2 separate regions of the Homo sapiens genome follow, and region 1 is linked to region 2. The links come from fine-mapping of genetic effects on plasma protein levels. Region 2 holds a variant in brackets. A gene starts in the other region. All regions are shown on their reverse strands.

Region 1 (11,243 bases), not on the chromosome of region 2:
TCTAATTTGAATTTTTTTTTTTTTTTTGGAGACACAGTCTCGCTCTGTTAACAACCTGGAGTGTAGTGGCGCGATCTCGGCTCACTGCAACCTCTGCCTCCCAGGTTCAAGCGATTCTGCCTCAGCCTCCTGAGTAGCTGGGACTACTGGCATGTACCACCATGCCCGGCTAATTTTTTGTATCTTTAGTAGAGAAGGGGTTTCACCATGTTGGCCAGGCTGGTCTCGAACTCCTGGCCTCATGATCCATCGGCCTCAGCCTCCCAAAGTGCTGGGATTACAGTTGTGAGCCACCGCACCCAGCCCTCTCCCTTCTAACTTTCATGGAGGCAATCTGAGCTCTAGTCTTCAATTGGAGCCTCCCAAAGTGCTGAGATTACAGGCGTGAGCCACTGCACCTAGTCAAGTAATAAGATCTCAAAGCTAATTAATGGTGGAGTAGGGATTTGACCCAAGACAGTATGGCTCCAGAGCCTGTCCACTTCATGGATTTTGCTGTTACCAAACCTTCATCAAAGAACAGTGTGCCTGGCCAGGTGCAGTGACTCACATCTGTAATCCTAGCACTTTAAGAGGCCAAAGTGGGAGGATCCCTTGAGACCAGGAGTTTAAGACCAGCCTGGGCAACATAGCAAGACCCCATCTCTATAGAATAAAAATCAACTTAGCTGGGCATGGTGGTGCACACTTGTAGTCATAGCTACTGGGGAGGGTCAGGCAGGAGGATGGCTTCAGCCCAGGAGGTTGAGGTTGCATTGAACTATGATCCATCCACTATACTCTAGCCTGGATGACAGCAAGACCCTGTCTAAAAAAAAAAAACCACTGTGCCTTTCCAGAGTTGGCCCTGTATTGGGTGTTAAATCTATAAGAGCCTCAATGGTAAGCTCTTGAGAATTTAGGGCCATAAGGGTTGCTTTGGCTTGAGAGATAAGGATATGAGCAGGCACTAAAACCCCAGCCCAGAGACCTCAGTATGAGGCTATGTAGGGGGTGTGCTCGGCATTGGTGTCCTTGCACTGGTATTTATTCATCAGGAGGTAAAGAAATATTGAACAGAAATGTTTTGAGCTAAAAACTGCTTCTCGAGGCTGGGCGCTGTGGCTCATGCCTATAATCCCAACACTTTGGGAGCCTGAGGAGGGTGGATCACCTGAGGTCAAGAGTTTGAGAGGAGCCTGGCCAATGTGGTGAAACCCCATCTCTACTAAAAATACAAACAGGCCAGGCATGATGGCTCACACCTGTAATCCCAGCACTTTGGGAGGCCAAGGTGGGCAGATCACGAGGTCAGGAGATCGAGACCATCCTGGCCAACATGGTGAAACCCCGTCTTTATTAAAAATACCCAGCTACTCGGGAGGCTGAGGCAGGAGAAGTGCTTGAACCCAGGAAGTGGAGGTTGCAGTGAGCCAAGATTGGGCCACTGCACTCCAGCCTGGTGACGGAGACTCTGTCTCAAAAAAAAAAAAAAAAAAAATTAGCCAGGAGTAGTGGCAGGCACCTGTAATTCCAGCTACCAGGAGGCTGAGGCAGGAGAATCACTTGAACCTGGGAGGTGGAGGTTGCAGTGAGCTAAGATCACACCATTGCACTCCAGCCTGGGTGACAACAGCAAGACTCTGTATCAAAAACAAACAAAAACCTGCTTCTTGGGCTAGGTGCGGTGGCTTAAGCCTATAATCCCAGTACTTTGGGAGGCTGAGGTGGGAGGATTGCTTGAATCCAGGAGTTTGAGACCAGCCTGGGCAATATAGTCAGACCTCTGTCTCTACAGAAAATTTAAGAATTAGCCAGGTGCAGTGGTGCATGTCTGTAGTCCCAGCTACTCAGGAGGCTGAGGTGGGAGGATTGCTTGAACCCGGGAGGTGGAGGTTGCAGTGAGCTGAGATTGCACCACTGCACTCCAACCTAAGTGACAGAGGGAGACTCTGTCTCAAAAAATATACATAAATTTTTTTTTTGCAATTGCTTCTTGTCAATCTCAGCCCAGGACCTGGGTGACCTCTGCCATAGAGAAGGGAATGTATTAAGCCATTCTTCCTTTGCTATAAAGAAATACCCTGTAATCCTAACACTGGGAAACTGAGGCTGGAGGATCACTTGAGCCTAGGAGTTTGAGACCATCTGGGCAACATGGTGAAACCCTGTCTTTACGAAGAATTTTTTTTTTTTAAGATGGAGTTTCGCTGGGTGCGGTGGCTCACGCCTGTAATCCCAGCACTTTGGGAGGCCAAGGCGGGCGGCTCACCTGAGGTCAGGAGTTCGAGACCAGCCTGACCAATATGATGAAACCCCATCTCTACTAAAAATACAAAAATTAGCCGGGCATGGTGGCATGTGCCTGTAATCCCAGCTACCTGGGAGGCTGAGACAGGAGAATCACTTGAACCTGAGAGCTGGGAGGCGGAGGTTGCAGTGAGCCGAGATCGCGCCGTTGCACTCCAGCCTGGGCAACAAGAGCGAAACTCCGTCTCAAAAAAAAAAAATGGAGTTTTGCTCTTGTTGCCCAGGCTGGAGTGCAATGGCACAATCTTGGCTTACTGCAACCTCCGCCTCCCGGGTTCAAGTGATTCTCCTGTCTCAGCCTCCCAAGTAGCTGGGATTACAGGCGCCTGCCACCATGCCTGGCTAATTTTTTTGTATTTTTAATAGAGACAGGGTTTCACCATGTTGGTCAAGCTAGTCCCAAACTCCTGACCTCAGGTGATCCACCTGCCTTGGCTTCTCAAAGTGCTGGGATTACAGGCATGAGCCACTGCGTCTGGCCTTCTACGAATAATTTTTAAAAATTAGCCAGGTGTGGTGGTGTGCACCTGTAGTCCCACCTACTTGAGAGGCTGAAGTGGGAGGATCACTAGAGCATGTGAAGTTGAGGCTGTGGTGAGCCATGATTGCACCACTGTGCTCCAGCCTGGGCAGTAGAGTGAGACCCTGTCTCAAAAAAAAAAAAAAAAAAAGGAAGAAAGAAAAAGAAAAAAAATACCTGAGACTGGGTAATTTTTTTTTTTTTTGAGACAGAGTCTTGCTCTGTCACCCCTGCTGGAGTGCAGTGGCATGATCTCAGCTCACTGCAAGCTCTGCCTCCTGGGTTCATGCCATTCTCCTGCCTCAGCCTCCCGAGTAGCTGGGACTACAGGTGCCCGCCACCACGTCAGGCTAATTTTTTTTTTTCATTTTTAGTAGAGATGGGGTTTCACCGTGTTAGCCAGGATGGTCTCAATCTCCTGACCTCATGATCCGCCCATCTCGGCCTCCCAAAGTGCTGGGATTACAGGCGTGAGCCACCGCGCCCGGCTTTTTTTTTTTTTTGGAGACAGGGTCTCACTGTGTCACCCAGGCTATAGTGTGGTGGCATGATCTTGGCTCACTGCAACCTCTGCCTTAGCCTCCCAAGTAGCTGGGACTACAGGCCGACACCACCATGCCTGGCTGACCACCATGCTTGCCTGGGAGACTGAACAATTTATAAGGAAAAGAAGCTTAATTAGCTCATGGTTCTGCAGGCTTTATGGGAAGCATGGTGTTGGCATCTGCTCAGCTCCTGGGTAGGCCTCTGGAAGCTTACAATCATGTCAGAAGGTGAAGGAGAAGCAGACATGTCACATATCCAGAGCAGGAGCAAGAGAGGGAGGGAGTTATGGGAGGAGGTGCCACACACTTTTAAATGACTGGATCTCTTGTGAACTCAGTGACAGCTCACTTATCCCCAAGAGAATGGCCCAAGCCATTCATGAAGGATCCACCCCCATGATCCAGACACCTCCACCAGGCCCCACCTCCAACATTAGGGATTACATTTCATCATGAGATTTGGGTGGGGACAAATATCCAAACTATATTAAGGAGGAATATTTCCCTTTCTTTATCAGGAGTATAAAGTAGGAGGCATGGGGGATTCTCTCCCTGTTCTGTTCAGGCATAGGTTAAGGAAACACCAATTCCTTTAAACATATGCATCTGGAGTTGCCAATTCTGAGTATCACAGTTGTTAAAATATGACACAGTCCCTGCCCTCAAGAAATTGACAAGGTAGAAAAATAAAAAATGGCTCTTTTTGTTTCCATCCCTACAAGCACTCTGGTCTAGTAGTATATTCAGCAAAAGGAGCAAAAAGTGCCACTTCCAGCTCCAAATCAGCAGGTCGGGTGGTGGGGTCTGGCCAAGTTCACACACAGAATAATTAACTCCTGCATGCTACCTGGGATGATATTTATTCGATGCTTGCTATATGCCAGGTATAATGCTACACCTTTTTTTTTCTTTTCTTTTTTTTTTTTTGAGTCGGAGTCTCGCTCTACTGCCCAGGCTGGAGTGCAATAGCATGATCTTGGCTCACTGCAACCTCCGCCTCCTGGGTTCAAGCAATTCTTCTGCCCCACTGAGCCTCCCGAGTAGCTGGGAATACAGGCATGTGCCACCATGCCCGGCTAATCTTTGTAATTTTAGTAGAGATGGGGTTTCATCATATTGGCCAGGCTGGTCTTGAACTCCTGACCTCGTGATCCGCCCACCTTGGCCTCCCAAAGTGCTGGGATTACAGGCGTGAGCCACCGCGCCCAGCCTACACCTTCATTTAAATACTATACTCATTTAATCCTCACAATGTGAAATAGATACTATTATCCTTAATTTTACAGGTGAAGAAATGGAAGCACAGAAAAATTAAGTGACTTGCCCAAGGTCATCCAGCTAGTGTCGGCATTTGAATCTAGGCAGTCTGTAAAGCTTGTGGTCTTAACTATTTATTATACTGCTAACATCCTGGATTAGGATAGCAGCAGGAATTAAAGCTCAATGGAGAGAGAGAGGACTTGAGAGAAGGTAGAATCCATGTAATCTGACCATAAGAGGAGAAAATTGAGATTACAAGTGAAAGTGGAATAAGATACAGGGTCTTTGGGCATTTGAGTTGCAATCAGTGGATTGTAACACCCTCCCCGAGCAGGATTTGTGTCTTAATCATTTTGCACCTAGCATAAAGCTGGGCTCATAATCATTCTCAAAACACATTATTGAATTGAATGATGGATGAGTAACATCATCTCTGTAGAAAGGACTGGCTCATTTGTCATTGTCCACAAGGGGCAATGCTGCTTATCTAGCAGGTGTTGGCAGTCACAGAGGACATGGTTGGTGGAGAGGGTGTGCTGGAGGGCTGTCAATATTAGTCTTGGAGTCATATTTATTTGCAGAGCTTCTCCAATCCTCATTAAAGGCCCAATGATATGAGGCTCTCCACCCCTGTACCCAGACAGAAATATGCACCAGACACTTTATTTTCTCTCATGAAAAGGCTGGCCTGTTACAGGTGGGATTGGTCATTGCTCCCAGCCCGTCAGCTTGATACTGCATTCTTGGTCTATTCTGTGGGGACAGCCCTGGAATAGACACTGAGTATCTATCAGAGTAGGCACCCTGAGCAAACTTCCTTTCCCAAACCCTCTTCCTGCCCATAACATGATTTGGCTTGGGCTGGAGGAGGGGGAGGGCAGAGGAGACACCCCTTGACCACCTCACATCTTTGTTGGTTCATGGGTCTCAGCCCTTTCCTATCATCCCAAAGAGCCTGAAATTGTTACATTTTGCTTTATAAATTCCTTTCTTAAGTATTGTCAGTTTCAAAAAAAAAAACCCAAAAAACGATTGTCTGCCTGTAATAGCAGGTGTGAGAGAAAATGAGGTGCCTGGAGCATATTTCTCTCTGGCAATGGGGTAGAGGGCCTGACATCATGGGGCCTTTAATGGTAGCCCCCCAGCTTCATGTTCCCTCACCTTTCTGGAGAGGAGGGCTTGGGAAAGGCACATGGAGATAGGGTGGAGCTGGGGGAAAACAGGCCTTGTACAAAAGCTGAGTAGCCAGATGTTCACTTTTACAGCTCTTCTGTAAAACTGGCAGGGCAGATATAGATTAAAACGAAGGACAAACTCCATTTAAAGTGCATTACAGCTCAGGAACCAGCACCCCCTGGGCAGGAGAAGGGAGGGAAGGGCACAGAGGCCACATCAGTCTCCTTCCTTATCTAGGGCCACATGTCTCTCTCCTAGCTTTGCCAAGGGTGATTTACACCCCCAGCTGGAATGACTCTCTTTCTGGGCTGATTACATCGGCAAATGCCCCCCAGAGGCCACAGCAGGATGGCCATATTCAGAAGCAGCAGCCAATAAATCTCAGAGGTTTATATTGCGATTCTCAGTACTCCCTGCTGGCCCTCTGCCAGGCTGGCTGTGGAAGTAAGGAGGGGGTCAAGTTAGAGGGTTAGGGGATGAAACCCTCCACTTCCTTTCATCACCCTCTTCTCCTTCTCTCTTTCTATGCGCTGCTTAGTTCTCATTCTTCCAAGCCATTCTGCTTCTGGCTTTATCCTGGGATCTTGTGGGAATCAGGCCCAGGCCCAATAAATACCCTTATCCTTATGGGTAGACGTCCTGTGTTCTGGGCACAGATGTGTTTCTACCTAGTTGTTTAATCCTGATAGAGTAGCTTGCTCTCCGAAAGTCTCATCATGTGAAAAGGATGGGCTCCTAAATGGTCTCTCCAGGCACCTTCCTCAGTGAGCTTTGGTCCAAGGAAATCTCTGCTATTTAGTGGAGAGTTTAATCTTCCATCTTCCCTCACGACACCATCGGGGCTGAATTTTGGAATCTAATGCCCCAGGTCTGCTCCCCCAGCAAAGCCATTCCACCTGTCTGCGACCCATCTTTGCAGCATCTTGAGCTTAATAACCACCCAATCTTACCCTAGAAGACACTTAGGAGAGGAAAAAACGAGATCATAGATGTGCAAATTCTAAGAAAAATACTAGAAATGCAAGTGCCCTTGTGTTGGCTTGTTCAAGTTTTGTTACAAAATCTCTTTTGTGGTGGTGTCTGTTCTTTGATGTGTGGGTGAGTGGGATCCAGAAAGTGAGAAAGGGTGCTTTTCTTGGAGAAATATTTGGTTCTCCTAGATGGCGAGTTTCCAGCGGCAGCTTCCACAATGTCTTGCTAGTCGAACTTGTCAGACAGCAGGTGGGCCGCCTCGGAAAGAGCAACCTCTTCCGCACCAAGCCCGGCGGCTCCCGGGGCGCCGGCCCTCCCCCGCCCCCACCCCCGCGGTCCCTCGGACCAGCGCTGGAGGCGCGTGGTGTGGACGCGCGCTTCGGAGTTGGAGGGCGGCGCCCAGGACCCTGGTGGGAGAGTGTGTGCGTCGCGCTGGAGGGCGGGAGGCGGGGGCGGGAGGTGCCGGTCGAGGGAGCCCCGCTCTCAGAGCTCCAGGGGAGGAGCGAGGGGAGCGCGGAGCCCGGCGCCTACAGCTCGCCATGGTGCGCCCCCTGAACCCGCGACCGCTGCCGCCCGTAGTCCTGATGTTGCTGCTGCTGCTGCCGCCGTCGCCGCTGCCTCTCGCAGCCGGTGAGTGTCAGAGCGCGCACCGGCCGGGGGTACAGTGGGAGGGGGAGGTGAGGTGTAGGCGAGGCCCGGGGCACCTGTCCGGAGAGGGCGCAGCAGCCTCCCGGTGCATCCGAGCCGAACAAGGGGAACTGGAGCAGGAAGCCCAGGGTGCCTGCAAGGGGCTGGGGTCACACCTAACACAGTGTACGAACTGAGATAGACTGAGTGCCAGCAATGGCCTGGCCACCCAAGCATCTCCTCCTCGCCCCTTTTTCCCCCCTCTTCCCTCTTTTGAGGTAGGTCTACACAGTCACAGAACAACCCACAGCCAGGTCACTACCAAGACAGCGTCTCTAAGAGGCGGGGAGAATCAGATCAGAAACAGAGTGTCATTTGCTCCACGTGGGCTTTAACTCTTCCATCTGCTTTAAGGACTGAGGAAGAAACTAGGTACAGGTGAAGAAAAAGAAGTTCGTTAAAACTGACTTGTTTCATAACCTTCTACAATAGCAGGCCTTGCAAGCCGTCTAGCACAGTGGCTTGCCCCTTGGATAATAAATAATCCACAATAGATGTTTTGTAGATGTAGTTCAAGGCCTGGTTTTAGAACCAGGCCACTCCCCCAAGGAAGAACAGCCTGGGATCCGAGATCCCTGGAAGGCCCATGGCCTTCGTGAGTGGTATGGGTGTGTGGAATCTTATTATGCGGCTCCTGCCCAGAGACTGAATGGAGGGACTCCTGAGACAGAGAGACCACCACACTGCCCTGAGACCTCAGTCCACAACGCAGTGCTGTAGAAATGCTGCCTTGAGACAGATATGGAAGGAAGGAGGAAAAACCCTGGTCTGTCCACCTGCCAACATCAGTAAGTCAGGGCAGCAAGACATCACCAGTCTGATTTGACTGCCCAGGAAATTTCACTAATCCTAAAGGTTATGGCTGCATGTCAGGATCAGGGGAAAACATTAAACACCTTTCTCATTAAATGGTTTAATGAAGCAGTGTTGGTGACAGATCTATTTTCCACAGTAATACTTGACAGCAATGACATCTGGTTAAGTAGCCTCATTGAAAATCCATAAAACAGTCATCTAGGAGGTACCATGTAGAGCCAAGTGCTCTTCAAGAGCACAGACCAACAGAGGGCTTTGGGGGTGGAAAATATCATTGCTCAGGGCCTGCTAAAGCCAAGCATATAGGAGACCTCCGATTCATGGGGAAGTGGTGTCATGTACTGAAAATCATTCTGAAGTGGATAGGAGGCTGGAGTCCTGGGTTCTAGCCTTGACTCGGTCTTGACTTGCTACATCCCCTGGTGCACATTACTTTTCTTTGTTCATCCAACTATAAAATGGATACCTGGGTTGTGGGCCTCACTGATGAGAAACAAATGAGGATCTTGTGCCCTGAGGCATAGCCTGATCTGACCCATTCTGTAGCTACTCATTCTCTGATGAGCCAAGAAGCAGAAAACAAAGTTACAAAACCAGGTTGCTAACAAATCAATATGAAATAGACGTGGCAGTGGCTGTATAAATGAGGAGGTGGGGCAAGTAATAGAAAGTGGTATGGACTATAACAAGCTGGAAAAGGCATGACTTGTCAAAAGGGGGCAGTCATTACTCCACCCGTTACATGTGGGCCCGAGTGTTTCCATTTTTCAAGACAAATTGGAAATTAATAGTTTTATTTGAAATCTGATTTTTTTTTTGAGACAGGGTATCAATCTGTCACCCAGGCTGGAGTTCAGTGGTGTGATTCCAGTTCACTGCAGCCTCAACCTCCCATACTCAAGTAATCCTTCTGCCTCAGCCTCCCCAGTAGCTGGGACTGTAGTAGTGTGCCACCACACCTGGTTAATTTTTGTATTTTTTGTAGAGACGGGTTTTTGCCATCTCGGATGCCCAGGCTGATCTTGAATCCTGGGCTCAAACAGTCTGCCCACCTTGGCCTCCCAAAGTGCTGCAATTAAAGGTGTGCGCCACCGCACCCGGCCTAAAATCTGATTTTTAAATGTTGGCCACTAATTACAACTTTAAGAAAATACTGGCTGGGTGCAGTGGCTCACACCTGTAATCCCAGCACTTTGGGAGGCTGAGACGGGTAGATCACGAGGTCAGGAGATTGAGACCATCCTGGCTAACACAGTGAATCCCCGTCGCTACTAAAAAATAGAAAAAATTAGCCAGGCATGCTGGTGGGCGCCTGTAGTCCCAACTACCCGGGAGGCTGAGGCAGGAGAATGGCGTGAACCTGGGAGGTGGAGCTTGCAGTGAGCTGAGATCGCGCCACTGCACTCCAGCCTGGGTGACAGAGCGAGACTCCGTCTCAAAAAAAAAAAAAAGAAAAAGAAAATACTGTGAACGTGCAAAAAAAACCAACCAAACAAACAAATAAAACAACCAAACCACACACACACACACACACACACACACACACAAAAAAAAAAAAAAAAAAAAAACAGAAAAGAAAATACTGCCGGGAATGGTGGCTCACGCCTATAATCCCAGCATTTTGGGAGGCCAAGGTGGGTGGATTGCTTGAGCTCAAGAGTTCGAGACCAGCCCGGGCAACATGGTGAAAACCCATCTCTACAAAAAATACAAAATTAGCTGGGCGTGGTAGTGCATGCATGCAGTCCCAGCTACTTGGGAGGCTGAGGTGGGAGAATTCACCTGAGCCTGGGAGGTCGAGACTGTAGGCTGCAGTGAGTGGCGATTGTACCACTGCACTCCAGTCTGGGTGACAGAGATTAAAAGAAAGAAAAGAAAAGGAGAAAGGAGAAAGAAAAAGAAAGGAACGGAACTATGCTGACTAAAAAAGACACATTTGCACACTGGATCAAATTATGACCTTTGCCCTGGATCAAGTCCTGTGTTTCACAATCCAGGAAACACAGGTTCCACCTTGTTGAGATGAAATTTAACGTGGCCCCCAAGTTCTTTGTTGAGATGAATGCCCCTAAATCCATCACTGCTCAAACTTGGTAAAGTGTCAACTAAGAAATTGTTTTCTTTTGAAAATGTTTACAACTCAATAGTTAGTACAGTTAAATATTTATGGCCGGGCACAGTGGCTCATGCCTGTAATCCCAGCACTTTGTTGAGGCCGAGGCGGGCAGATCACCTGAGGTCGGGAGTTCAAGATCAGCCTGACCAACATCGAGAAATCGCATCTCTACTAAAAATACAAAATTAGCCAGGCATGGTGGGGCATACCTGTAATCCCAGCTAGTTGGGAGGCTGAGGCAGGAGAATCGCTTGAACCCGGGAGGCAGAGGTTGCAGTGAGCCGAGATCGCGCCACTGCACTCCAGCCTGGGTAACAAGAGCAAAACTCCACCTCAAAAAAAAAAAATTATTTTTAGTCCAGTTACAACAATAGAACTTGAATCTGCCACTTTTCTTTGTGTACTTACCACTTATTCAGTACCTACCGGAAGTAACATCGTAAACTTGTAGAAATTCCTCAATCTTTTTAAATCCATGTTCCCCTTTTGGTAAATATATAAAATCTCATACCTTCCTTAAATACTTTTTGAAATCTCAAAAGCTTTTTTTTTCATCTTGTACATGTAAAATTATCAAATATGCTTTTTGGAAATACATATTTCCTAGAGAAATTCTGATATACTTTTTCTTTTCCATAGGTTATTGGGGTACATACAGGTGGTGTTTGGTTACATAAGTAAGTTCTTTAGTGCTGATTTATGAGATTTTGGTGTACCCATCACCCAAGAAGTATATACTGCACCCTATTTGTAGTCTTTTATCCCTTCCCCTCCCCCACGCTTCCCCCCAAGTCCCCAAGTCCATTGTATCATTCTTATGCCTTTGTATCCTCATAGCTTAGCTCCCACATATCAGTGAGAA
Region 2 (11,589 bases):
TCTCAGCTGAGATAAATCCTGAGACCTCATCTGGGTTCAACAGGAAAAATAAATAAAATGAGTGACTAGTGATGTCTGTTGTGGATGCGACAATAGAGAGTTATGACCTGTGAGCCAAATATATACTCTCCTACCTACTGTCCAATTTTCTCATTTTCTAGATGGGCAATCTGAGTTTCACGTAAAAGTTACTTGCCCGAAGTTACATAATGTACTACAAGTTAACTCCACATTAAGTTAACACCAATGCGTCTTTTCTACCACATTATAAAATTTAGCTCCAATCACCCATGAGAGGAAAGCAGGCTGATTAAAGAAAAAAATTGTGTATGGCCTCACAATATAAGTTTAGTTTGCTGGTTTCCACCAACATCTGACATATTGGTGACTTATGCATTGTGGTTTATTTTAAAGCTGCCCCCATTTTTTTTTCTTTGCAAAGAACCTGAATTATTTTAACGGGCCACTTTGTGCCAGTCATTTACAAGCCATGGGAACTTCTTGAATTTACACAGTCAGATTAAAGTTATTGTGAAACAGGGTGATGCAGCTTTCACAGGGGATATCCAAGCGACAGGGGTTGTTGACTTGTTATTTGTTGAGTGATGGGCCCTAAACTTCCCCCAGTGATATGTTACACCACCCTGATCCTTTTTCTCCCATTTCCATGGTGTCCTCTTCCAGACTGGCTGGCGCAGCTGAAAAATAAACACTGGGTGTCCCCCGCATATGGTGTGAGGAGTGGGAAGAGAGGAATCATATTTATTTTAGATGCACCCTGGAGATCTTGACACTAATGCATTTCTATCTCTCCTCTCAATTCCATGAGTGGACGCTTAATATGATCTCTGGCTATTGCAAGGGAGGAGGCCAGTGTGACAGCAAATCTGGGATCCAACCCAGACAAACAGTGGGAAAGCAAATATCCTGACAGACCAGTATGGAAAATTCTCCTTTCTTTAGAAGACAGATCTGTCCCCCTTATTTAATCCCCGGCACAGCTGCTCTACTCAGGGCATAGAGACATCAAATGAAAATGGATTCTGATTTGGGAATCATAGGGGCAAATCTAATTTCAGATTATTCCTTTTTCCACAGTCTCACCCTGCTGGAGGTTCGAGCCAAGACATAGAAAGAGGACATTACCTGGGGCAGGAATCAATTGCCTATCACTGGGGATGCCTGCAGATCATTGTCCAGAGTGGCTGCTGTTCACTGAGTGTTTCCTCTGTGCCGGGCACCTTGCACACCTTATTTTCAGTCTCCGCAGCTGCCTTGTTGAGGTTGGCTCTCTATGCTTCTGTTTCACAGTTGGGGAAACTGAGGTTCAGAGATGTGAATGAATTTTCTCAAAGTAACGTTAAGTATTGGTAAGATTTCATTTATCCATTCACTATTAAATATTATTAAGTAATTACAGTGCTTTAAGAACTCCATGTAAATGGTGGATTTGAGGCAAAACTTAGAAGCTGAATTACATAAGGAGTTAACATTGCAAAAAGCTTAGAAATTTATGTTCCAGGTGGAGCGAACAGAGGTTGTGTCTTTTCGGTTACAAGTAATAAAATCCAGAGGCTATCTCAAGGGAAAAATAAAGCACTAGATGGTCTACCAAAGATAGAGGGGCAGGTGGATTTTGGGAAGGGGCAAGAATGAACAGCTAGAAAAATGTGGCTTACGTTTACTGTCTTATCTGCCCCTTAGCTTCATAGCTTTCTTTTTCTCATGTGTAGAGTGATCAAAGATGACCACCACCAAACTTTCATATTAAAGATTAAAACACAAAAATAGGCCAGACACAGTGGCTCATGCCTGTAATCCCAGCATCTTGAGAGGGTGAGGCAGAAGGATCGCTTGAGCCCAGGAGTTTAGGTTCAGCCTGGGCAACATAGCAAGATCCTGTCACTATAAATAGTAACAAGATTAGGTGGACATTATGGTTCATACCTGTGGTCCCAGCTCTTCAGGGGGCTGAGGCAGGAAGATCCCTTGAGCTCAGAAGTTTGAGGCTGCTATGAGCTATGATTACGTCGCTGCACTCCAGCTTGTGTGACAGAGCAAGACCCTGTCTCAAAAAAAAAAAAAAAAAAGACATCTAAATAGATAAATAGAGCAACTCTCCCTCTCAGAATCCTGGGCACAAAATTTCTATTGGCTTAGCTTCTGTCAAGTGTTTAATCCTAGTCACATATCAGAGGCTGCAGGTGGATGGGGTCATATGATATAATACGGCCTCGTGGGGATTGATCACTGTGGGTGAAGAACTCAGTTAAGGTGGCATTAGAAGGTGGACAGATAGCTTGAAAGATGCTGCCTCACCCAGTTACAGAGCTAAAAACCAGACCTAAGTGTGTGTAAGTCAAAACACTACAGTTGACAACCAACTTCATATCTTCTATCATTTCAGAGTAGCACGACACTGGTCAAGAAAGGCCCACATGTTGGTAATTTGTGCCTCCCATATGGTCAATGCTACATTGCGAGGAAGCATGCTGAGCATGACAGTATGCTCTACACCTGTGTGGCTACCATGTTTTGGTTGCCTCCATATAATGGAGTGGTTAAGAGTCCGGGTTCTGGGGCTGAAACACTGGAATTTGAGCCCCAGCTCTGCCAGTGTGTGCCCTTGAGAAAGCTAACTGCCCTCATTACATGTGTTGGTCTTCTCATCCATAACAGGCAGATAATATTAGTTTCTAGCTCAAGGGGTTATTGCCAAGATCAAATGAATGAGTACAGATTAACTTATTGAACAACAGCCAATAAAGGCAAGTTATTTTGAGATACTCAGACTGGACACCATGGGAAACAATGATGAAAGACTCTCCCACAGAAAGACATGGTGTGGTAAGGCAGGGGTTGCAATATTCCGGAAGCTCAGTCACCATAATGAAATAATAGGTCCAGGCATGATGGACACAGTTCCTTTGGAGTCATGTTCCAATTACCACATGGAACCATGGTCCCAGATGCTGACCAAATCTGCTGGCCCAGCTTGGCTTCATTAGTCCCCAGAGATCACCCAGACAGATCAAAGAAAACCCATCCTCAACCAGCCAGAGATTGCTCAAAAAACCAATGACTGTCCCACCAGGGACTGGAATTCCAACTTGCTGGCTAGGTCTGGAGAAGGAGGTGGAGGTGGAACTGCATCCTTTTTTCCAGTATGGACTGAGAGCCAACCATGTGCCAAGGCTGGGAGGAGGTACCGAGGTTGCAGAAAGAAAGGCCCAGTCACGGAATTCAGAGAACTCAGAGTTCAGTGGGGAAGACATGGGCATCCACAATGATATGGGACAATTCATGTTTTTCATTGTTCTGGTAAGAATTTAGTGGGATTATAAAAATAACAATAAAAACAAGAACAATAAAGTGAGATTAAACGAAATGCAAAAATAAAATATGTAATTTCATGAAGAAGTTAAAACAAGGGAAAAATGAGAGAAGAGGGGATAAAATGTAGCTGGAGTTAAATTAGTGGCTGAAGTCAAGAGACTGGCTTTGGAGCCTGTGTTCTGCCTCTTCTGAGAGAGCACAGTGAGCTTGAGAAAGATAGTCTACCTTCAGCATCTCTGCTTCCTCTTCTGTAATGTGGGGATAACAAAAATCACATGTGGATTTTGTGATGAATGAATGACAGCAGCTCTACATAGCGCATTACACAATGTAGGGCCTATTAGAGGTGGGGATGAGGTTTCAATTATGGGCTAATGGTGCAAAGCTTGAGATCACAGTGCTTTGCCATTCACCTCTTCTCCCTAAAAGGGTCCTAACAGAGGGAGATTTTCACATAAGGAATACCCGCCAAGCAGGAAGCAGGCCACTGCTTTATTAATAACGGATATGAATGAATAACCTAGCCAACATTCAATGGCACCAAATGCTGAGCTTTCTAGCAGGGCTAGGTTTGGGATATAAATGAGGGCTTGGTTTGGGATATAAATGAGGGTTCCTGCTGCTATACCCTCATGGCAAGTTCCTAGCCAGACTAGCTTCCTCATTTCGGAGAAGGAAGAATTAGAATAGCAACCAAAAAAAGCACATATACATCATTTGAGTTGGACATACAGTCCCTGAGAATAAAGACTACAGCCTCCCTTGTCACTAGATTTGGCCATATATCTAAGCTTTGGCCAGTACATTATAATATCTTTCCTAAAAAGACAGCTAGCTCAGACCCTTGTTTATTTATTTGTTTGTTTTCATTTGTTGTTCCTTTCTCCTTCCTGCTGGTTGGAAGGTGAATAGCATGATGACAGTCCTGGCAGTCGACTTGGATTACATGAACCTGGGCCACATCCTAAGGAAGGCAGGGCCAAAATCTGGAAGGAGCCTTGGCCTCTGGGGACTTGACCTGCAAAAGCCTCCCATTAGCTCTAGACTTCTTCCCTTCAGATTTATATATGAGAGAGCAGGACACTTCTACTGGGGGTATGCTGCTGTTAGTTTGAGACTCTGTTACAACTAAACTTTGTTCTAATGATACAAAAAACTTGGGGCTTAAAAAATATAAATATCAGTATCTAGAATCATAATTCAAAGTCATGGGTTTTAAAAAAAAATACATAATTGAATAAGACATGCTCCAAAAAAGTTCTCTGCTTGTTATTCTTTCAAACTAAAAAGAGTCGTTGAGCCTCCACTGGGTGTCAGGTGCCAGCAGCGGATGTTACAAAAATCCAAGGATGAGTGACATTCACAAGGCTTTGTTTTGTGCATCATTGGGGCTTTTGTTTCATGTTGGAAACAGCATATGAGGTAGGTTTGAGTATGGGGAGAATTTGAGAGAGAGAGAGAGGAGGGAAGGAGAAAGCGAGAGGAGTTAGGGTGGAAACTAGTGTTTCTAGGAGAGTTAATAGTAGGACTAAGACAGGCATAGTGGCACACACCTGTAGTCCCACCTACTCTGGAGGCTCAGGTGGGAGGAAGGCTTGAGGCCAGGAGTTTGAGTCCAGCCTGGTTAACATAATGAGACCCCATCTCTCTAAAAAAAAAAAAATCGTAGAACCAAAGGCCGTGAGAAGAAAAGCCCTTTTCCCAATTTCAATATTTAGCCATGGTCTTTGTTTAATAAGAGAGTCTCTTTAATTGCTTAATCATGATGACTTGATTCCCAATTCCTGTTATCTGTGTGACCTGACACAGGCTCTGATACACTGTCGCTTCCCGGTAGATGATGGATGCTGCAGTTGTTGTTAGATATTCAGACGAATGCAAGCAGAAGAGCAGGGCCCACCGGTAGCACCTTTTGTTCTATGTATGTTTTCGTTTCTCATTTGAGGCATTGGGTATTCATCTCAATGTAACCCAACACTAGCTCCTGCCCTGTATCTTCAGGACTGCAGCTTATGGTCAAACAGGTTAGGTGATGGATGACTCTAGGGAGGGCCACTGACATCGTCCACAGTGTGATTTGCACT[G/A]GGATTGTGCAAGAGGCTCAGTTTACACAATCATCAGCAGAACTTCGCCTAGGGCCTCTTATTAGAGAAAAACATGGAGAGGACAAATGCCCTTTCATCTTCTGTCATTCTTTGGCCCAAACCCTCCACCCCACTGGAATGCCAGCTTCAAGAGGGCAGGGATGTTTTGTCTGTTCTGTTCACTGCCATCTTCCCAGTGATCAATAGTAAAATGAATTATATTTGCAGTGTTACTTATGGAAACACCTTTATTCCACCCTGTAATCTACTGGAAGCTTCCATGTCTCAACCACGTGCCAGAAGGTCATAAAGAAAAGAAAATGGAAACTTGAAAATGGGCAGAACAAATGCTCCTGTTCCCTAAATATATTGCTGGTATCTAGCGCTGTGTCTGATTTCCCCACCATTTTATTTTTGGCCCTGATCTCAGAGGCTTAAAGCATTAAATCATCACTAGACAAGGGTGAGCACAGGCTGTTAGAACAGAACAAGTTCATGGTGCTAACAGACCCTCCCAGCAAAGATTGTGATCTGGCACTGTGAGAACAGCATCTTATTGTGTGTCTGCAGCCTGAGAAGACAGCACCCTGGCATGGAAAAGTGTGGCCTGAGGCTCTGGGTTGTTGGGTTCGCTGTAGAGTTTATTCTCTCATGTAGTCCCCCAATCATCACACCCATGCCGTACCCTGACTCATTGGTTATTGGGTGTAATGTCTCTCTATTCAGTAATGGGGATTCTTTTCTCTTTAAGTCATTAGCAACTCAGTGATAACTGCTACTTCTTGCAAAAAAGCGTTTGCAAGCTCCACTTCTGCCCATTCATGGGAAAACACACACCCGACTTCGGTTCAGTACCTAAGTGTTCCAGGCTCTACGCTACACACAGAAGAGGTGCTGTCTCATCAGTACCGTACCACACTCCTCTGAGTCAGGAAGAATTAGCCGCATGTCTAGCCTTCCTAGAGAAATTAGGAAAACTTCCCAAGATAGTGCTACTAGCTCATATCTGTAGAACTTATTGCATGCTCAACTAGCCCTTTTCAACTCCCACAGCCACCCTAAGTGAGAGGTAAGGGTAGGTGTGCCCATTTTACAGATTACATAACTGAGGTGCAGTTACTCAGGAAGTGAGGGAACCAGGATTCAAGTCAGCCAGTCAGCACCAGAACCCACACACTGAATCTAGTCCCGAGATTGGGGTTGGAATCCAGTCCTTTCTCCCAGTCTGCAGGCCTCCAGTACCAGGAGCTCAGTCGAACAGGTTTTACAAACTCCTTTCAGAGATCTGGCATACAAATGAATGATGCAGGCTAAGGGTATACAAACTTTCTTTTGTTCCTGAAACAAAGCATTGTCTCAGTGTTTCTTTGCTTTTTTTTTTTTTTTAATTAGGTAGAGATGTAGGTGCTGGAAATACTTTACTGTATTCTTAGCTCTGTGAATGCCAGAAAACAAGTAAATGCAGATAACATAGAAGCAGAATCTGAACTCAGGGAACAGCTTTCCTTCCAAACAGTTTGCCTTGCATGCATGTGGTGAACAGGGAACACTTTTACACTGCAGGTGGGAATGTAAATTAGTACAGTCACTATGGAAAACAGTATGGAGACTCCTTAAAGAAATGAAAGTAGAACTACCATTTGATCCAGCAATCAACTACTGGGTATTTATCCAAAGGAAAAGAAGTCATTACATAAAGAGGGCACATGCACACACATGTTAATAGCAGCACAATTCGCAATTGCACAGATATGGAACCACGCTAAGTGCCCATCAATCAACGAGTGGATTAAGAAAATGTGGTATATGTACACCATGGAATACTATTCAGCCATAAAAAGCAACGAAATAATGTCTTTTATAGCAACTTGGATGAAGCTGGAGGCTGTTATTGTAAGTGAAGTAACACAGGAATGGAAAATCAAATATAGTGTATTCTCTTATAAGTGGGAGCTAAGCTATGAGGACACAAAGGCATAAGAGTGATATAATAGACTTTGAGGACTCAGGGGAGAAGTTTGGGAGGGGGTGAAGGATAAAAGACTACCTACTGGGTGCAGTGTACACTGCTTCAGTGATGGGTGTCCTAAAGTCTCAGAAATCACTACTAAAGAACTTATCCATGTAACCAAAAACCACCTGTACCCCAAAAAACTACCGAAATTAAAAAACAAAAAACCATGAAATGGATGTCTCATCACCAAAAAACAAACAAACAAAAAAAAAAACAAAAGAAGTTTGTCTCGGGAAACAGTTGGGGTTTTCACAAACTTGCTGAGCATCACTTAAGGCCTATGCTTCCTAAGGCTACAGGCAAGAATGTTAGAGACTGTCTTTTAAGTTATTTAGTTTTTGCATCTTCCATTAAAAAAAAAGGTAGGGTGATAAATCACAGATAGATAAAAAGCTTTTGCCAACATGAGCTTCTCTCTGCAGCAACTGGCCTTCAGAAGGCAGACTGGGGCAGCCTGCAGATCTGCCTGCAATTCCTGGTCCTGACTGTTGTTCTGCAACTGGAATTAAGGAACCAGACAACGTGCCCAAGATTTATGGATTCCATTGTTTATGATATGTGTTCCTCACATATGTTCCCTCTGTCTCACCCGACAGGGAACACCACATCACAAGGTCTGTGGGAGTTGGAGAAAACTCTCGCTGACTCCCTGAATATAGTCCCAGTGGGAACCACCTTGGGGAGAGGCTCTGTCCAGCTGAACCCTCCAGTGCACAGTATGCTTGGCTGCAGAGGCTTGGAGTGAGAGAGGAGACCAGGGTCCAGCTTCTCGGACAGCACTCACTGGGGTAGGTTGTGTCTGGCACATTTTCAGCAACTGCTTTCAAAGTAATAATAATAGGAATTATAATCTAAAAAGAATGGCTTCCACATGTCGCTCTGCTTGTTTAAAATCCAGGTTCACAGCCCTACTTCTTGAATTCCCAATTAAGAAGCGTCTGAAGGAATCCAGTGATCTCTGTATTTAACTATCTTTCAGAATAATTTATCAGCAACTAACTACGACATTTGAAAATCACTGATCTAAAAATGTCAACATCCTGTTCACAGACATTTCAAAGTTTCCTGAAATAATAGTTCAAGACTTTCTTTTAGAGTGACTCCCCTATGATACAAAGCAAATGCACGTATATGAAAGTATATAATGACCAGAATAGTCTGGTAATCCAGTGAGTATCTATGATGTGCTAGGCACTGCACAGAAAAGTTTACAGGCATTACTGCATTTAATCCTTTCTGCAGATTTTATGGGGAGAGGGTTATGAATGCACCCATTTCACAAATTATAAAACCATGACTCAGAAAACAAGAGCTGCCGGAGGTCACACAGCTAGTGAGGAACAGAGCTGTGATTTGGGCCCAGGTTAATTTTATTTCCATTTGATTCCTTCTTTGATGAAAACTGGGAGAAATCAGTGTTTTGTTTTTCCTGAAAAGGAAATTGAAATAGGAGAGAGTTTGGGGATCTGTATTAGTTTTCTGTGGCTGCTGTACCAATTTACTACAAGCTTGGTGGCTTAAAACAACAAAAATGATGTGTTTTCTCACAGTTCTAGAGGCAAGAAGTCTGGAATAAGTATCACTGGGCCAAAATCAAGGTGTCAGAAGAACTTCACATCCCCCAAAACCTCCAGGAGAGAAGCCATTCCTTGCCACTTCCAACTTCTGAGCCTCCAGATATTCTTTGACTTGTATCTGTGTCACGCCAATCTCTGCCACTGTCTTCACATGGCCTTCTCTTCTGTGTCTCTCCAATTTGCCTTTGTATTTCTCCTATAAAGACACTATCATTGGATGTAGGGCCTACCTGGATGATTGAGAATGATCTCCTGTCGAGATCTGTAATTATATCTAAAAAGGGCCTTTTTCCAAATGTTACATGGTGAACATGTTTCGGGGGAACTAGCATTCAACCTGCTACAGCGTCCTCTAGCTAGGAAGTGGTAGAAGCAGGACCTAATGTAGATCTAGCCACAATCCCACATGGATTGCTTAGACTGCATCAATTGTGAATGACAGACACCCAGTGCAACTTAAGCTTTCTGCATTGCTGTTGAATAGGGGGAGGAGGAAATGGTGGATACAGAGTCACTGTAGCTGAAGATGCCAAAGGTAGACATTTCTAGTTGCAGACATCATCTACATTTTGTGGTCAGGGCTCAAGCCATCTCTTGGGCAGGCTTTCTTCACCCAGTAGGTGAAATGTCTTCTGTTAGCTCAACACCCACAGTCCTCTAGTGTGGCCAGTGGAAAGTGACTTCTCTTTCCATTAACTCAAGAGAAAAAGCCCGAAAAGCTTTGGCCCTGCCAAAATCACATCACCCTGGTGAAATCACATGATCAGCCCTAAACCAATCACTCTAGCCAGGGAGATCATTTATTCAATAGCAATAATAAATATATATTGAGTACATTCTATGTGTCAGGAATTCTTCAAGATGTATAAAAATACCCCAGCAAACAGAAGACAAATTCCTACCCTCATGGAGCTTATATTCTAGAGGAAAATACAGACAATTAACATATAAACAAATTTTAAAAACTGTCATTCAAATTCAGACAGAGAGTAGAGCTATGTAATAAATTAATTAGGGCAATGTGCTTAAAAATGGCCAGAGGTGGTGTGGACTCCTTTAGCCGGTATGATCAGTTAAGACCTCTCTGTAGAGGTGGTAGATGAGGTGCAACTCAAGTCACGGGAGGCAACCGTTTAAAGATTTGTGGAAGATCATTCTAAATGGAAGGAATAGCAGGTGCAAAGACAGTGGGGTGGGAACAACCTTAGAGGAACAGAAACATGGACAGTACAGCTTGACTATAGTCCATGAGCAGGAGAGAGTATGAGATGGAGTACTTCAGTGGTGAAACTGGGATCTCAAAACCAAAATGTGATTTCCAACCCATCTGCTCTTTAACTCTTTTCTACACAACCTTGCTCAGGAGAGGTATGTCTGTCCACCAAGCATAGGTCTCCTGTGCATTGTGTCACCCCTCTCACTGCATGGCTAGAAGATGTTCTTTGAGCAGCTGGAAGATTGTAAATATGACACCATCTATTTGGTGGGTGATTTTTGCTCCTTCTGGTATAAGAGGATATAAGTGGGGAAATAGAACAAGAGTTAACAAACTCTGTAAGGTCTCATTGGATCTTCACCCTAACTCAAACTTGGTCCAAACAAAACTCTTTGACAATATTTAGGTGTGAGTAGGGGAGTTGATAAATGATGTTTTCTCTCTTCTCTTCTTTTTCACTTTTATACGCCTCTGGGTTGATGGTTTCTGGCCAAGGCCAGAGGTACTAAAATACCACAAGAAAGGAGAACTTTGAAGTGATCATCTGTTCAGCCAAGAAGGAGGTGGTGCTGCCTGAAGGTTCACCAGGAATGCGGTCTTCTGGAGCTTTAGACAGAGTTCCTAGGAGGCCCCCAGAGACAGACAGATGCCTTGGAGTTGATTTGGAGAAACATCTGAACTTCTGGATGGAGTTCTGAGCCGAGCCTGAAACCCTCTGGGAGCCTTCATTTGCTCCCAGACAATCCATGGAAACACCTGTTCCAAGTCTGAGCTGACTGGACCACCGCCTTTGATTTTGGAAAACTCAGAGACCAGATCTTGAATCGTCCTTTCAGAATGTACTCTGGAATTCCTTGTTCTTCAGTGCAAAGATTTAGATAAAGTTATCTGACCATGTGAATGACAGATCTGAGAATGTGATGACTTTATTGATAGGTCCTACTGGACAGTTCCTTGGCCCAGCAGCATCAGCACCTCCTGGGATCTTGCTAGAAATACTAAATCTCAGGCCCTACCCCAGACCTGCTATTTTAGAATCTGTAATTTAACAAGATCCCAGTTAATTAGCATGCACATTCCAGTTTGAGAAAAGCGGCACTAAAAAGCTTTGTCAAATAGGCAGTGTGCTCCCATTTCTCGGTATTGTGCCTGTGACAGGCATCAATAATCAACCAGAGAATCACTTCCTTCTGAGAGCAGAATATTCTCAAGTCATGGTTTCAGGTCGCAGTGACCAATCAATGGGAGTTGGATCAAAATTAAACCTATCTTCCATACTGGTGTCAACACTTGAAGAAAGCTCTTTTATTTCCACCCATATACACATCATACATGCCTGATAAATGTTTGTGGAATGAATGT

Which allele goes with the higher level. Alleles are on the strand shown, and positions count from the first base shown. The strength of an association depends on the size of the effect and on how common the allele is.
As copies of G replace A in region 2, the plasma level of the protein whose gene starts at base 7,105 in region 1 goes down (strong association).

Evidence for each region. PIP is the chance, under the fine-mapping model, that this variant and not a neighbour inherited with it causes the effect. The UK Biobank Pharma Proteomics Project read protein levels with antibody pairs (Olink). The fine-mapping took linkage between variants from a reference panel, not from the people measured, so its PIPs are less certain.
Region 1: GFRA3 starts here. The variant in region 2 is fine-mapped to the plasma level of the GFRA3 protein (UK Biobank, PIP 0.93).

The regions. Positions count from the first base shown.
Region 1 is chr5:138,270,483-138,281,725 of GRCh38, reverse strand. It overlaps GFRA3 (GDNF family receptor alpha 3), which reads left to right and starts at 7,105. Exons shown (of 8, transcript NM_001496.4): 1 at 7,105-7,392. The coding sequence starts at 7,302. RefSeq lists silencers at 7,013-7,102, 7,193-7,382.
Region 2 is chr12:115,300,408-115,311,996 of GRCh38, reverse strand. It overlaps LOC124903082 (a long non-coding RNA gene), which reads left to right. Exons shown (of 11, transcript XR_007063592.1): 9 at 1,099-1,283; 10 at 8,031-8,222; 11 at 8,985-11,589. Among named protein-coding and RNA genes, the nearest start is that of LINC02463, 580 kb to the left of the region's middle. The variant G/A (reference allele first, on the strand shown) is at 5,421.